2 linked regions of the Homo sapiens genome follow. The protein of the gene in region 1 interacts with the protein of each later gene in a biochemical or structural test. Each region holds a gene or a part of one and is shown on either strand. Other genes may lie near its edges.

Region 1 (7,804 bases):
AAGCACTTTGCGAATTGTGGCATTCCCTCATAATGCAAAGGGTTTTAGAACTGATGGATTAAAGGCATCCAAAGACCTAGTGAAATCATTCTCAGCTTTTTTTTTTTTTTTTTTTCCTGGCAGCTCCATCATCTTGGGGTTTGTATAGAACTTTCCTTTACTAGAAGTACTGACAGGAAAAATTTTAAAATCATAATATTGTTTATCTTCATTTTGATTTGGGGAACTTCTTGTGTATTTCCCAAGACTGTTGTGCCCTCTATGTAGGAAAAGCATTGGCCAAGGGTGAAAAAAAAAAAAAAAAGTGTGTTCTAACTCCCAGTGCCTGACATTGGGAAAGACACTTCCTCTCTTGAGGCTGCAGTTTCCCAAACTGTTAAATAGAGTTTCTAAGCTAGATGATTTCCCAGGCACCCTTCTAACTCTGAAGTCCTATAAACCTAAATCCCAGATACCGCTTTTATTCAAAGGAATAGCTTGCCTGCATTTTTAACACCGCCTTACTGCACCCCCAGTTGAAAAGAAAACAAGAAAAGATGGGCTAGGGGATCTTGAGTTGCATAACCATCATGCTGTAATCCTTATCCATCTGTAGAGATTTGTCAATCAACAGTGTGGCTGGGGTTTGCTATTCATGAGAGCAGCTTTCCTTGCTGAAAACAAGCTATAAATAAGAAAGAATGGTGAAGGAAAGGAAAGAGCTGAGGATGTGAGGTAAACAGTAGAATATTTGGCTTTTGAAGTTGTTTATGTAGGTAGATAAATATGCAGAGATAAACAGGGACAGGTACAAACCCATAGGGATGAAGAGTATAAACATCGATTTCATCAACAGGCACCCACTGGCTCAGCTAAAAATAAGTGCCTCATTACAGGAGCAGACACAGAAAGTCATTCACTCACACACCTCTTCCTGGATGACAATGATTTACAGACAAGTTCCAGGAATATATCTCAATGAATGTGAAAATTCTGACCCTCGCCTATTACAGGCTGAAACAGACAGATGCTAAGTCAGGCTGTATGTAACTTACACAGACATGCCATCAGGTATACAAACACACACCGCCACTTGCAGCCACACATGGATGGATGTGCACAGTCAAACATATGCACAGTCAAACATAATATGGATCATGACAATGAGACAGACGTGTAACCTACATTTATCACCAACCACCTCTATGTCTCAGAGAGAGAGAAACTGAGGCTCAGGAAGAGAAAATAACTCACTGGAGGTCACATAGCAAGCTGGCGTCTGAGCCAAACTTCCACGTGTTTGGAGCCATTTTGATATTCACCTTGCCTTCCCCCCCAATCCCCATTTGTTCAGTTTGGAAACACACTTATGCACACAAGCCCCATGGATACTAAGTGGTGAGCAGCACTTTGTCTCTCCCGTTGGCTGGCCTGCAATGCCTATTCCAGCCCACGTGGCTTTGTCATTAGGCCCAAAGGCCCTGCATGATGTGCCTGTAGGCGGCTGCTCCCTTGCTTCTAGCTGGCTCCCTCCCAAACGTCAGTTTCAAAGGAGAGAAGGGAAAACCAGCCTTGAGCTTTCAGCAACCCTGAGGACCTTGTTTCTACAGCACAGACCCTGATGCCTCCCTCCCTCCCTCCCTCCCTCCCAACCTCAATCCTGAACCCAGGGACAGCTGGGCTGTGCAGGGCCAGGGCCAGCAAGTAGTGACTTGACGGAATTATTTAGAGAAACAGCCTCTCCTCAACTGGCAGCTTAGACAGGAAATCATCTCTGCTCTCACCCATCAAGCTATAGAACTTTATGTCTGCAAGGAAAACATGAACATAGACAACAATTGTTGTCAGAGCTGGTTTCTTTCAGAAACTTGGTATTAACTTCTCTCATCTGGGGATCACTCTGGGTCATCTTGATGTTAGTCATGGCATTAGGATTTCAGACCTATCAGATAAAAAAAGCAAAGCAAACATCTGGATGTTTTTGAACATCTGGAAATTTGGCTTAGACACCAGCTTGCCGTGTGACCTCCAGTGAGGTATTTTCCTTCTCTAAGCCTCAATTTCTCTACCTCTACAATAAGAGGCAGCACACAGAGGTTTCATGTGGCCTGACAACATCACTAATTCATCGGTAGTGGCTGTCAGAAGAACTGTGTTCAGGATTCTGATGACTCTCTAAGCTTTAGGAGAAGAGGTCAAGCGATTGATTAGTAATGTCTGCCACATGTGCAGGAGGGGTAGGTGGAGGCCACGTGTTTGTCACATATGCCACATATTTGCTATCTTTGGGATCTCGGAGGCTTTTCCAGATGCAATAGCCTGGACACTTTGATGTTATTTCTCATCCTTTCATTTGTGGTCACCACAATGCAGCAGCGGTGCCCTAGAGGGAGCCAAGGATGAAGCCTGAAGCTCCACCCCAGCCTCTGCTAGCCACAGTGAAATGTGGCATCTCAGATGTCTTTATGGAATCTCGGGCTGATTCCAGCCCCAAACTCTGGAGCCACCTCTGAGTTGCCCCAGAAGCTCTCCAGTCCTAAGTTTTAGCTACCACACCTTAAAAGTTTCCTTTAGCGTCTTTCCTTCCAGCAGGAAATAGAAGTGGAAGCAGGGAGTCAAGGGGCAAGTGGAGAGAGGTAAGGCTCTAAAAAGCTTCTGCCCAAGTTGATCCGGAAAATCAGAGCTGAAAAGAACCTAAAGGACCACCTTGCCTAAGGGTTCCATATTGTGTTCCTAGGAGAAAGTACAGATGTTCCAAGGTATCTTAGGGAATGTCCCTGTGTGTAGGACTCCCACTCCTCAGCTCCACTCCACTTTTATCTGCTTTTCTTTTTTGTGGATTTTTTTGAGAGGGAGTTTCACTCTTGTTGCCCAGGCGAGAGTGCAATGGCACAATCTTGGCTCACTGCAACCTCTGCCTCCCAGGTTCAAGTGACTCTCCTGCCTCAGCCTCCCGAGTTGCTGGGATTTTAGGCGCCCGCCACCATGCCCGGCTAATTTTTTGTATTTTTAGTAGAGACGGGGTTTCATCATGTTGGCCAGGCTGGTCTCGAACTGCTGACCTCAGGTGATCTACCCTCCTTGGCCTCCCAAAGTGCTGGGATTACAGGCGTGAGCCATTGCGCCCAGCCTGCTCTTGTTTTTTAATTTCACACTTATTGATTAACTAGATAATACTCATTCACATGGTTCAGTACATGCTAAAAGATTTCAGCTGTTTGAAATATCGGACTCTGCAGAAGACTTCATTGAAATAAAGGATTTTCTGGCTTACATAATTTTGAGCACTGACCTTATACAGACAAGCTGGGGGTGTTAGTTCTGGAGAGCAGAGGAGACTCCCCTGAATTCGCACAGTGAGCTGGGAGACATGCTGACTTGCTCTCAGCTCTCCTGACTTCCACGTCATGAGGCCACCTCTGAGCTGCTGTGTCTGCTCCCAGGGGTGTGAGCAGGAGTGCCATTGTAGCTGCATGTGGCCACCTCTCTGGCCTGCCTGGCTCGGTCCCCATGTCAGCAGACCCCAGGCTCCTTCCGAGTCCCAACTCCCTGGAGGGCCTGGCTCTTGGCTTCCTTTATTAGCCTCTAGGCTTGTTTTCCTCTCTTTGGGCTTGTTTACCAGCAACATGTGTTTTTGGAGCCCTTGTTTCCAAGCCAAATAGTGAGAGTGAGATGCTTGGCTGGTATCAGCTGCCCAAGTAAGAGGCCAGCCCTGGGCCTGGTCTTCGTCACTGTATCCTCTGGAGGCTGGACTTACCCAGACCAACAGGGGCAATATGTCCTTTGTTCCACCCAAACACCCCTTTCTCCCTGGGCTTATAAAGCACTGGAATTTTGCACTGAATTCTTTCGGGGGATGGAGATTCTGGGAACCTCGGACTTTATAAGATGCTCTTCCCAACGACAACATTGCTTACCTCTTTATTTGGATTCTCTTGTGTAAATCACCCATGAGCCTTTAAAGATTGGTATGTTATTGTTTCCATTTTACACATTGGGGAACAAATTGAGGCCCCAAGAGGTAAAGTTGATTTCTAAAGGTCATACAATTACTAAGTGGTGAGCCAGGATTTGAACCTGTATATTCTGGCTCCAGAGCCTATGAGCTTACCTTTATGCTATACTGCCTCATAGTTTATTATCACTCTGTCTACCATGGTAGCCACTAGCCACATGTGGCTATTTAGATTTAAGTTGATTAAAATAGATGGGCATGGTGGCTCACGCCTATAATCCCACCTCTTTGGGAGGCTGAGGCGGGCGGATGGCTTGAGGTCAGGAGTTCGAGACCAGCCTGGGCAACATAATGAAGCCCCATCTCTACAAAAAAGAAAAGAAAAGAAAAATTCGCTGGGTGTAGTCACAAGTGCCTGTGATCTCAGCTACTCGGGAGGCTGAGATGGGAGAATCACTTGAGCCCAGGAGGCAGAGGTTGCAGTGAGCTGAGATTGCGCCAACCACACTCCAGTCTGGGTGACAGAGGGAGACCGTGTCTCAAAAAAAAAAAAAAAAAAAAAAAAAAAAGATGTTTTCCACTATTCTCTATTGCAGTATTTCAACAAGGTATGGGTTAAGTAAGATATTTTGGATTGGCCTCAGTCCTTTTGCATAAAATTTTTAAATAAAAAAATTGGTTAAAATGAAATACAATTTAAAACTCAGTTCTTCATTTGCACTGGCAACATTTCAAGCATTCAGTAACCACTTGTAACCAGTAGCTATCATAGTGGACCACGTAGATATAGAATGTGTTCATCATCTTGGGAAGTCCTGTTGGGTTGCATTACTCCATAAGTTCTTTCCACCCAAATAAGATTTAATGATGGCAACTCAGTTTCTTTGCTTCACATCCTAAGTCTATCATTCTGAGACCCACAGTCCATGATTCTATGATTCTGAGGTATCCCCCCTGTTCTAACGTTCAGTGGCTTTTTAACGTCCAAGGAGAGCCCAAAGGAGGCCCTTTATGTTTTGAGGGACAAACCTGGGGGCTGGCTGTACTTTTCCATCCTCAGAGTCTTTCCAGAGAGAGAAGTGACCTCAGCTTCAGGTCCTGCTGGCAGCCAAGGACGGGTTTTCAGCAGTCTCCAGAGCAAATAAAGGCAAAAGGAAGGGACTCGATGTACGGAACAGGAGGCAGTGGCGGCTGGGAGGGGGCTAAAACTGTCTGCATTTGATGGCCACCATGCCAAGGGAAATATGCCTTCTCTTCCTCCCCTGGCCCTGGGCATTTTCCTTCCCAGGAACTCAGGCCAGTTCAAGGCCCAACTGAGCCCCATTCAGGTGACCACCTGGGAGCGGGTAGCTGCCAAGGGAAATAGTGTGCAGAGGTAGAGACATACCAGTGGTGGGGTAGGGTTGCACGGGTTCTCACCCTAGCCCTGCCACCCAGTCACTCACTCACTGCTGTTAGCCGTTGGCAGTTTTCTCCTTTCCTCTAGGCCTTGGTCTTCTCATCTGTACTATTGGGCAGAAATATGTGACTTGAGCCCCCAGTGGGGTGCTGGATTATGAAAACACCCTGAAAATGATAAATGTATGCATCATCACAGACTAAAGAAATACAAAGGAGGGAGTTTTTGTTTAATATTGGTCATTTATATGAAGGGAATTTAAATTTTCGCCAGGCACGCTACACCTAGGTTTGATTGGCAAAGGATCACAGCTGTGAGTTCTGAATGCTGGGGTTTGATACTGTGTTCTGACCTTGCTGGGGTGACTGTTATACTCCATTAGCTTTGCAGGATGGACACAGGGCTCTTTGGTCAGTGGTAGTTTAGAGAGCCTCAGAGAGGTATCTCGTGGGGAGGCAGGGAGATGGCTGTGCATCTGGAATAGTTCAGCCGCTTCCCTTCCCTCCCATCTCATCATCTGGGGGAAAAGTGCTCTTGGACTGGTGGTGTAGCACCGGGTGCTGGGCAGGACCCAGATTTTGTGTTTGTGTTTACAGTTTTCTTCCAAAACTTTTAAGGTGTATTCCAAGATTTTGCGTTCTGTTCTTAACAGTCTCTCTGCATTTCTCCCCCACTCCCACTTGTCTGAGCGTAATTCCTATTAGGCTCACCCCAACTCCATGAGTGAGAACGCTTGCCTATTTGGAGAGGGCCTGAATTGTTGCATGACTTTGGACAAGTGCTTCCTCCCTCTCAACCTCAGATTCCCCATTAGGACAGTGGGACTAAGAACCCTTCCATGCCTGTCTGCCTACTTCCCAGCATTGTCAGAAGGCTCTAGGAGACAGTGTTATGTGACAGTGCTTTAGAAACTATGAAGCAGCACTATAAGACTTAGAGTTATTTTTCTCTTCTGGCTGCAACAGCAGGGATGGGGGTGGCAGGGAGGGTGAGTGTGCAGCTGGAAAAGGAATTCAGGAAGATGAGGAGGCAGGACAGACAGAAGAGCCGCCCAGCGAAACCTTCCCCTGGTCACAGAGGGGAGCGCGGTTACTCTGCTCATATGAAGGACGCAGACTCAGGGAAATGTCTGTCTTCCTGTCTTTCTAATCTGAAGCTTACTACATTTCCAGTCCTAGCTGGGCTATTTCTTCAATAACATGACTTCCCTGTCATTATAGCTCAGACAGGGTAACTTTTTGTTTTGTTTTGTTTTAGCTGCTATTTCACTTTGATCCTTCAACCTCAAACTATCTCAGACAAGTCCTTCCTTGATGTTTTCTTTTCTGTTCCATTTGTCCCAAGCCACATGCAGGAGTTATTTATCTTGCGTCTTCCAAAAGGGGAAGCAAGAAGGGAGATTTTTCCACTTAAGCCTGGGGAACAAGTGAACAACTGTGTGAGGGGAGGAACATTCCACAAGCTGCCTCAAAAGGGAAGACTAGACTCCTCTGGAAGTTGGGGTTATTGTGAAGCAATACCAAACCCCCAGGTCCTTTACATTTCTGTTAGTTTTACTTCATTCACTCTGTGCAATAGGGGGTGAGGTTTTGTGTCTCTTTAAGCCCAAGAAAGGACCATTATGAAGTGGGCTCTTCCTCTGCCTGTTTCTGCTTCCCAAATGCTATAGTACAAGTGAAGACATATGATCCCAGAGGAGACCATATGTGTCAAGACCAGAATGTGCTTGGGGTGTCTTAAGAGCATTTTAAGGACCGAGGCTGCCACTTCAAAGTTCACCTAGTCTACCCATTTCAATTGATAGATGGGGGAACCAAGGTCTAGAGAGACCAAAAGACTTGATACTACTGTGGTAGAACAAGACCCCCTGGCATTTAATTTCAAGCTGAGTATTTTTCTCCATGATGCCGGGTTACCTCCCACCACCATTTGGTCAGTTGAGAAGTCTTGGAAGAAATAAGGGATGATGAGCCTGACAGGGAGGTTTTGGGAGAAGAAAGAGGGAAGACATGGCCACTGTTGCTCCTGATGGAAGGTTATTTGTGGGTAGAGAGAGCAGGTTTGTTCTTTGTGGCTGCAGGGGAGATGGGGTAGACAGATCAGAAAGTTTGAGGGAGGCACATTTAGATCAGTAAAAGAAAGAACTTTCTAAAGTCACTTGAGAATGAAAAGCCATTTAGTTAGTGCAAGAAATGAAATGTCTCCACCACAGAGCCTCTGTTAGGAATAGCATTTTAGTTTTGAATCCTCAGAGGAGATACTGCTCCAAAATCCCTTATAGTCATGAGAGTATTAGAGTCTAGAGCTTGGCATTTAGAGAATGAGGCCTTAACAGTTACCAGAACAGAGGTATTTTCTAGATCTCAGCTAACATCCCCTCTGCAACACATGGAAGCATCTGGATGGTTTCCGTACAGGACCTAAAGAAGTGCTGTCTCTTCTGGGTAGAATGGAGAAAAATGTGGCCACCC
Region 2 (7,000 bases), on another chromosome or scaffold:
AGGTCATCTCCTCTACACGCCATTGGTTGACTCCAGTCACGTGATTGCTTTTTGCAATAATTTGTGGGGAGAGTCGGCCAAGTTTTGTGAGACTTGACAGGTATCAAATGGTTAAATTTCCTCTGACTCAATCAAGTTGGCTGGAAAGACATCCTTTTCCATCCTCTGCCCCCTCCCTCCCTCTCCCCATAAAAGAGCAGTGAGTGGGAGGAGCTCAGAAGCCCCAAGAATTCCCCAAGCCCTCTCCCTGCTGTGGTCCAGATTTGCCGGAGGGGTTGGAGTTTTGGTTGCTACCCAGGGCTGTGCCCACCCAGCAGTGCGGCAGCCCCAGGCAGGGGCGTGCTCCCAGTGCCAGGCTCACAGTGGTTTCTCCAGTGATGTTACTCCTGGGCTGCTCCTGCGGGGCTGGCCAGAGCCTGCTCTTCACCCCGCCCTGCAGATATTTCTGGACTCCCCACCGCCACGCCTCAGCCGAACACAGCTGGTGCTGCCCGTCCCGCCCTGCCTTCTCGCTGCCTGGCCTGTCTGCCTGCCCTGCCTCCTCCCTGGACCGCCCCATCCCACCTCCTGGGAGATAGACCTTGATAGGTGGAGTAGGGGCTGTGCAGAGCAGTGAGCTGCCCCGCTGGAGGGCGAGGATGAGTCCCCAACACTTCCCGAGGGCACCCACATAGGAGCCTGAGCCAAGCTGCATCTGGAACAGTGCAGGACCTGTCCCTGCTCGGTCACGTGACGTGGCTCTGGGAATGGCCTTGGGAGACAATCACACATGGGAATGGAGGGGCTGGCACTTGCCTGGCCTGTGGTGAGCATCAGCTGCACCATCTCACTGCACCCTCACCCGGGCCTGAGAAGGGACAGAGCCTAGGAGTCAGGGGGCAGGGATGCCAGGCAGATGTCTTCCATTCCTGCTGTGGGGCCCTAAGCCAGCAACGGCCCTTCGCCTGGCATGGTCACTCTTTGACTTGTCACAGTTCCCTCTTCTCACTTCCCATCGGTTTATCAGCTCTCCCCGGGGAGAAGGCCAGGGCCCTGAGCTATAGTCCTGGCCTGGGGGCCCAGTCCAAACAGGGTCCTGGGAGCAGAGCCATTCCATTTGGCCAACACAGCTTTTAAGTTCCTTTCTTTCTCCTTCCCCCTCCATCCTTCCCTCCTTCCTTCTTTCCTCCCTCTCTTCCTCCCTCCCTCTCTCCCATCCCCTTCCTTCCTTCCCTTTGTCCCTCCATCCCTTCTCTTTTTACTCCAGTGCCTTCAAGAGGGATGCAGCAGCCACAGTCTCCACCACTTCCCAGGCCTCTCTGCACATCAGCATAACCTGCCTGGACCCTGAAGGCTTTTGCCTTTTCACCTGGGTCGGGCCTATCTTGGGGAGACCGAGGCAAATGGGATGGGACCCCTCGTTTCCTTCCAGGAGCTCACAGTCTGACAGGCAGACCATTGTGAATTTTACTCAGGGCCCTCCATGGGATGTGCTGGGTCTTGCATCCGACAGTCTGGGAGGGTTAATTGCACTGGGGAGAGCTGGGGAGCTTCCTGGAGGAGGTGATGTGAAACTGGCCTTCCCTCCTTCTCTTCTCCTTCCTTTTATTGCAGAAATGACCCTCCTTCGTGGGGTCCTCCTCCACCTCTGGCTTTAATCTTGCTCTCTTCCCTCCTTCTGACAGGACATTCCACACCGTGTCCCAGAGCTCTCCTGGGCGGCTCCCTTGGCTGGAAAGCCCCTCATTCACGGGCTTGGCAGGTGCTCCCAGTATCTGTTTGCCAGGAGAATACAAGTGCCCCTAAGGGAAGTGGCAGATCCTGGCAGCTTCCTTAACCCTTTCTCTGCCCCCGTTCCTCCTGTTTCCCTTTGACGAGCCCTGCTGGCCTGGCACAGTGAGCCCAGTCTGCACAGCTCTGCAGACAGCTCCACAGCTGTGGATTAGGATGTGGGGGCCTCTGGGGGTGATTTTGGGTACCTGTGCTGGGTGACAGGTGGTCGGATGTGGGAGGGGACATTCCTTGGCAATCAGATTACTGAACTCCAGGCCAGCAAGGTCGGTGTGAGGCTGGAGCTGAGTTTCCCTGCCTCTGAGGGGCTGTCGGATGGGCTGGGCGAGGACAAGTCACTGCACCTCAGCTTCCCCTCGTGAACATGGGGAGAACCACATTTCTTGCTTTGAGGCATGGTTGTGAAGATCGATTGAGGCCACACCTGTGAGAAGCTTTGCAGGCTGCCTGACCTGTACTCGGCACTGGCTGTGTGGGGACGTTACCATCGCCCCCATCTTCAGTGGTGGTTTTGCAGGAGGAAAGAGCAGTGTTCCCACAGCCCTCTTTAGCTCCCAGAAGCACAGGCGAGGGAGGTGTGCCTGTGTGGGGCCTGGCCCTGCTGAGACCCCTGGGGCTCTGCTGTTGCCCGCTTAGCCGGTCTCTGCTGCCCCTTTGCCTTCCTTGGCCTCGGTTCTTTGCTTTCCCACGGAACCTCATGGGGTCATTGTCCAGGCCGTGGGGTGTGATGCATGTGAAAAGCTTTAGAAGCCAATTCCAGGGTTTGCACTCATGTGTGCGTTTGTGTGTATGTGTGTCATGTGTGCGTGTGTGTGTGTGTGTGTCAGGCCGTGTGCACGTGTGGACAATGTGTATATCTCCCCGCGATCTGCCTGCACACATGTGTTTGTGGGTATACATGTGTGTTTGAGTGTGCACGCATGCGCATCCTTGCACATGTACCTGCGTTCACATGGGTGTCCCTGGCTGACTCCACGTGCAGGGCCTGGTGTGTTTGAGGAGCTCGTGGCAGGGCGACGTTTCTCTCCTTACCGTGACCCGGCCCCAGCTGGACGGGAGAGGAGGAGATGGCACGTGGAACCTGCCGGTTGAGCGTGAGGCTGTGGGTTCTGCCGCAGGGCAAGCCGGGTCCAGCTGGATCCGACAATTTCATGTCTTTTTAAACTCCCGGGAGGGCGATGTTACATTATGGCTCCCGCTTCTCCTCTATTTACATTCTCCCATATAATTGACTCGTCTGCTCTCTCTCAGTGCTTTGCCAAGTGTCGGTTTTAAAGTTTCTGGCCTGGCTGGTGGATGTGCCTCGATCCTGCAGGCGGAGCCCACAGCGGCCCTTGTGGTGGTTACTACTGAGTGTCAATTTGATTGGATTGAAGGATACAAGTATTAATCCTGCGTGTGTCTATGAGAGTGTTGCCAAAGGAGATTAACATTTGAATCAGTGGGCTGGGGAAGGCAGACCCACCGTTAATCGGGAGGGCACAATCTAATCAGCCGCTAGCAGGTGTAGAGCAGGCAGAAAAACATGAAGAGACGAGACTGGCCCAGCCTCCCAGCCTACATCTTTCTCCTGTGCTGGACGCTTCCTGCCCTCGAACATCGGACTCCAAGTTCTTCAGGTTTGGGACTCGGACTTGCTCTCCTTGCTGCTCAGCTTGCAGACAGCCTATTGTGGTGGGACCTTGTGATTGTGTAAGTCAGTACTTAATAAACTCCTATATATATATATATAATATATATATATATATTTCTATTATTTCTATTCCTATTAGTTCTGTCCCTCTAAGGGAACCCTGACTAATACAGCTCTGCTCATAGGCAGGACTGCAGGACTGCAGCCACCAGGACATGGCATAGGGACCAGGGTGGCCTGCTGGCAAAGGACAGGCAGCCGGCAAGACTCCTGGATTCCTATCCTGGCTCCAGTGTCTACCAGCAGTGCATTTTCCCACCCTGTGCCTCACTTTCCCCATCTGTAAGAAGGGGGTGGTGACTGTAACTACAGTAGGGTTTTAGTGATGTCTAATGTATTACTCATATAAAGCACAGAGTAAGACCCCATTACTGCCCTTGCCACCAGGGGCCCCAGTGCAGCAGGAGGCTGTGAGGTGGTTTGGGGCCCTCTACTCGCTGGCCTGTGCGTGCTCCCTTGCCATCCTGTGTGGTGTCACACTGCTGCTTCCCTCACTGGGTACGCAGGAGAAAAGGTAAGGCAGTAAGCACCAGTGGTCAGTTCAGCGGATCGCTCGCTGCTCGCTGCCTCTGAGGCTCTGAGCCTGAGCCAGGAAGGTGCATCCTTGGGCAGTCGCGGGCCAGGCCAAGTTCAGCCCGCAGAGTGGCCCTCCCCTGCCTCCTCTGGCCACTTGCTCTTTACAAGGAACGGAGGTCCAGGAGGTGGATGGACCTGTGCACCTCCCAGCTGCAGGCCTCTGTTCTGTCTCTGTGATGTGATGGCGGTGAGTGGTGGCTGATCACTGAAAGGAGGTGTTCCAGGCAGGGGTGGGTGAAGTTGGTGCGGGCGGGGTGTGGGGGGGGCTTTGCCATCTCAGATGTTGTTTTTGTGCCAGCCCAGCCCCAGGCCACTGGAGAGAAGACCGTGGAATGAATGAATTGGTGGCTGGATGCTCAGTGGAGGGGTGCGGGTCACTTTGAGTTATCCATGTCAGATAGTCCGAGCCGTCACACCCTCAGCTTCCTATCAGCAGAGGAGTTTTTCTGGAGGAATCTCAAACTAGGTAATAACCTCATATTAGCAGTAAATGTCACCATCCTTTGATGACTCAGACCTAAGAAATGGAACCACAGCCTGACCCACTTTTCTCAAAATTTAATTACTCAGAGCTCTGGGGACATGGGCTCAGCCTATTTGCCGAGATGTCTCTGCCCATGAAATGGAAGCTTCCTTTATTTTCTGTTTCCTAGACCCGTGTTCTTGTAGGGAAATTAGCTCTTCTGTCCTTTTCTTCCTTGCCAGGACCTCGGCAATAGGGTTTCTGGTGGCCTCTTTTTTTTCTGTAAATAAATGCCACAAAATGACATAAAAACAGTGTGGTGATTCCTCAAGGATCTAGAACCAGAAATACCATTTGACCTGGTGATCCCATTACTGGGTATATACCCAAAGGATTATAAATCATCCTACTATAAAGAGAAATGCACACGTATGTTTATTGCGGCACTGTTCACAATAGCAAAGACTTGCAACCAACCCAAATGCCCATCAATGATAGATTGGATAAAGAAAATATGGCACATATACATCATGGAATACTATGCAGCCATAAAAAAAGGATAGTTCATGTCCTTTGCAGGGACATGGATGAAGCTGGAAATCATCATTCTCAGCAAACTAACACAAGAACAGAAAACCACAAACACCACATGTTCTCACTCATAAGTGGGAGTTGAACAATGAGAACACACGGACACAGGGAGGGGAACATCATGCACCAGGGCCTGTTGGGGGGTGGGGGGCTAGGGGAGGGAGAGCATTAGGAGAAATACCTAATGTAGATGACAGGTTAATGGGTGCAGCAAACCACCATGGCATGTGTATACCTGTGTAACAAACCTGTGCGTTCTGTACATGTATCCCAGAACTTAAAGTATAATAAAAAAAATTTTTTTAAATGTGTGTATGTAGCAGGAGTGACTTAAGTTGAAAAACTCTGACCCTTGCATTGGGAAACAGTGATCTCCCAGTGAGAACACATGAGCATCGTAACCGTCTTCCATTGGAAGCGACCGTCTTCCATTCTGCTGGCGGGTGGCCTGGGGGACCAGCACTCTTTCCCGTGTGTGGGTACAGAGGGAACAGATGGGGTCCATATGCAAAGACATTGGGTGTGTCAGCAGGTTTGCTTGGCAGCATTTATGGACCCCTAACATGAGACGGACCTGTGCGGGGGGCACAGGTGAGCGATAGGCGAGCCGTCTGTGCCCTACTGGGTCTTCCGCTGCGGCGGGGGAGTCAGCCATCTGAACAGGTGGTTTTACCCAGTGAGGTGCAGTAGAAGTGGGAGTAGGGTGTGGCCAAGGCCAGTCTAGGGAGGCACCTGCCAGCCCCATGGGGCGGTGGCCAGTCAGAGACCAGCCTGCTTCTCCAGGGCCAGCCCTTTGGGATGCATGCGCCTGAAGGCAGGCTCCCATTGGTGGATGCAGAGGGCACGTTCCCGTGCATGTTCTTCCTCTGGCTCTTGTTCATATTTTCATATTTACACTGGACCCTGCTCTGAGGGTGCTCCCGTCAGCACCTGTGATCCTCAAACCCGCCCTTCGTGCCAGGTGGGATCGGCCCATTCTGCAGATGTGCCAGTCTAGCTCCTTGAGTCCAGCTGGCACAAGGGGATGAAAACCACCCTCCACGTCCCAGTGGTCACACGGCCTGCATGTTGGTGCAGGTCCGTACAGTCACATGCATGGACGCAAGCAGCCTCTGTCCATTCTCAAGGCCAGGTGAGGGCGGCGTGGCTCCGCTCCCTCCTGTTTGTTTGCTGGCGCCAGCCTCCATGGCAGCTGGGTCCCAGTGCTTCAGAAGGGGAGCCATGGCCCCAGGCAACAGTGCGTACCTGAAGCCTCTGCCTCGGTTTCTTCTTCTTCCTTTCAGATGCATAAAAATGCACATCAAGCCTGGGCACCATCTGGTGGCCTCTTTATTTTTTAAATAAATGCCATAAAATGACATAAAAACAGTGTGGCGATTCCTCCAGGATCTAGAACCAGAAACACCATTTGACCCAACAATACCATTACTGGGCACCACCTCTACAGAAATTTCAGAAACAATTAGCCAGGTGTGGTGGTTCGTGCTTGTGGTCCCAGCTACTTGAGAGGCTGAGGTGGGAGGATCACTTGAGCCAGGGAGGCTGAGGCTGCAGTGAGCTGTGTTTGTGCCACTGCACTGTAGCCTGGGTGACAGAGTGAGACCCTGTCTAAAAAAAAATGAAAATAAAAATAAAAATGTACACCAGAGAGCACGGTGGTCTCAGCTTTTCCAGCTGTAGTTTCGTCTTTCTTCTGGAGGACAGAGGCCCAGCCATCTGCATCCTCAGCACACAATTAGGTCAGTCACTGGGGCCTGTTGTGGGGGTGACAGGCAAGCCTGGGTGTGGGGAGAGCCGGCCCGTTGCCCATGGGCTCTGCACAGTGGGTGGGTGCAGGTGCGATGACAGGCGCGGGACAGAGGGGCCCCTGGGGGGACTTTTCTCGGGTCCTCTGCCTTCCCACCACT

What was found.
Region 2: the proteins of SPARC (region 1) and COL5A1 form a complex in vitro, tested with the Homo sapiens proteins (one study listed by BioGRID).

Annotation. Positions count from the first base shown.
Region 1 is NC_000005.10:151,676,916-151,684,719, reverse strand, and holds part of SPARC (SPARC isoform 1 precursor), read left to right. Parts: intron 1-4,963; exon of another isoform or gene 4,964-5,064; intron 5,065-5,383; exon of another isoform or gene 5,384-5,500; intron 5,501-7,672; exon of another isoform or gene 7,673-7,775; intron 7,776-7,804.
Region 2 is NC_000009.12:134,644,803-134,651,802, forward strand, and holds part of COL5A1 (collagen alpha-1(V) chain isoform 1 preproprotein), read left to right. Parts: intron 1-3,251; exon of another isoform or gene 3,252-3,462; intron 3,463-3,588; exon of another isoform or gene 3,589-5,404; intron 5,405-7,000. UniProt on the Homo sapiens protein: Type V collagen is a member of group I collagen (fibrillar forming collagen). It is a minor connective tissue component of nearly ubiquitous distribution. Type V collagen binds to DNA, heparan sulfate, thrombospondin, heparin, and insulin.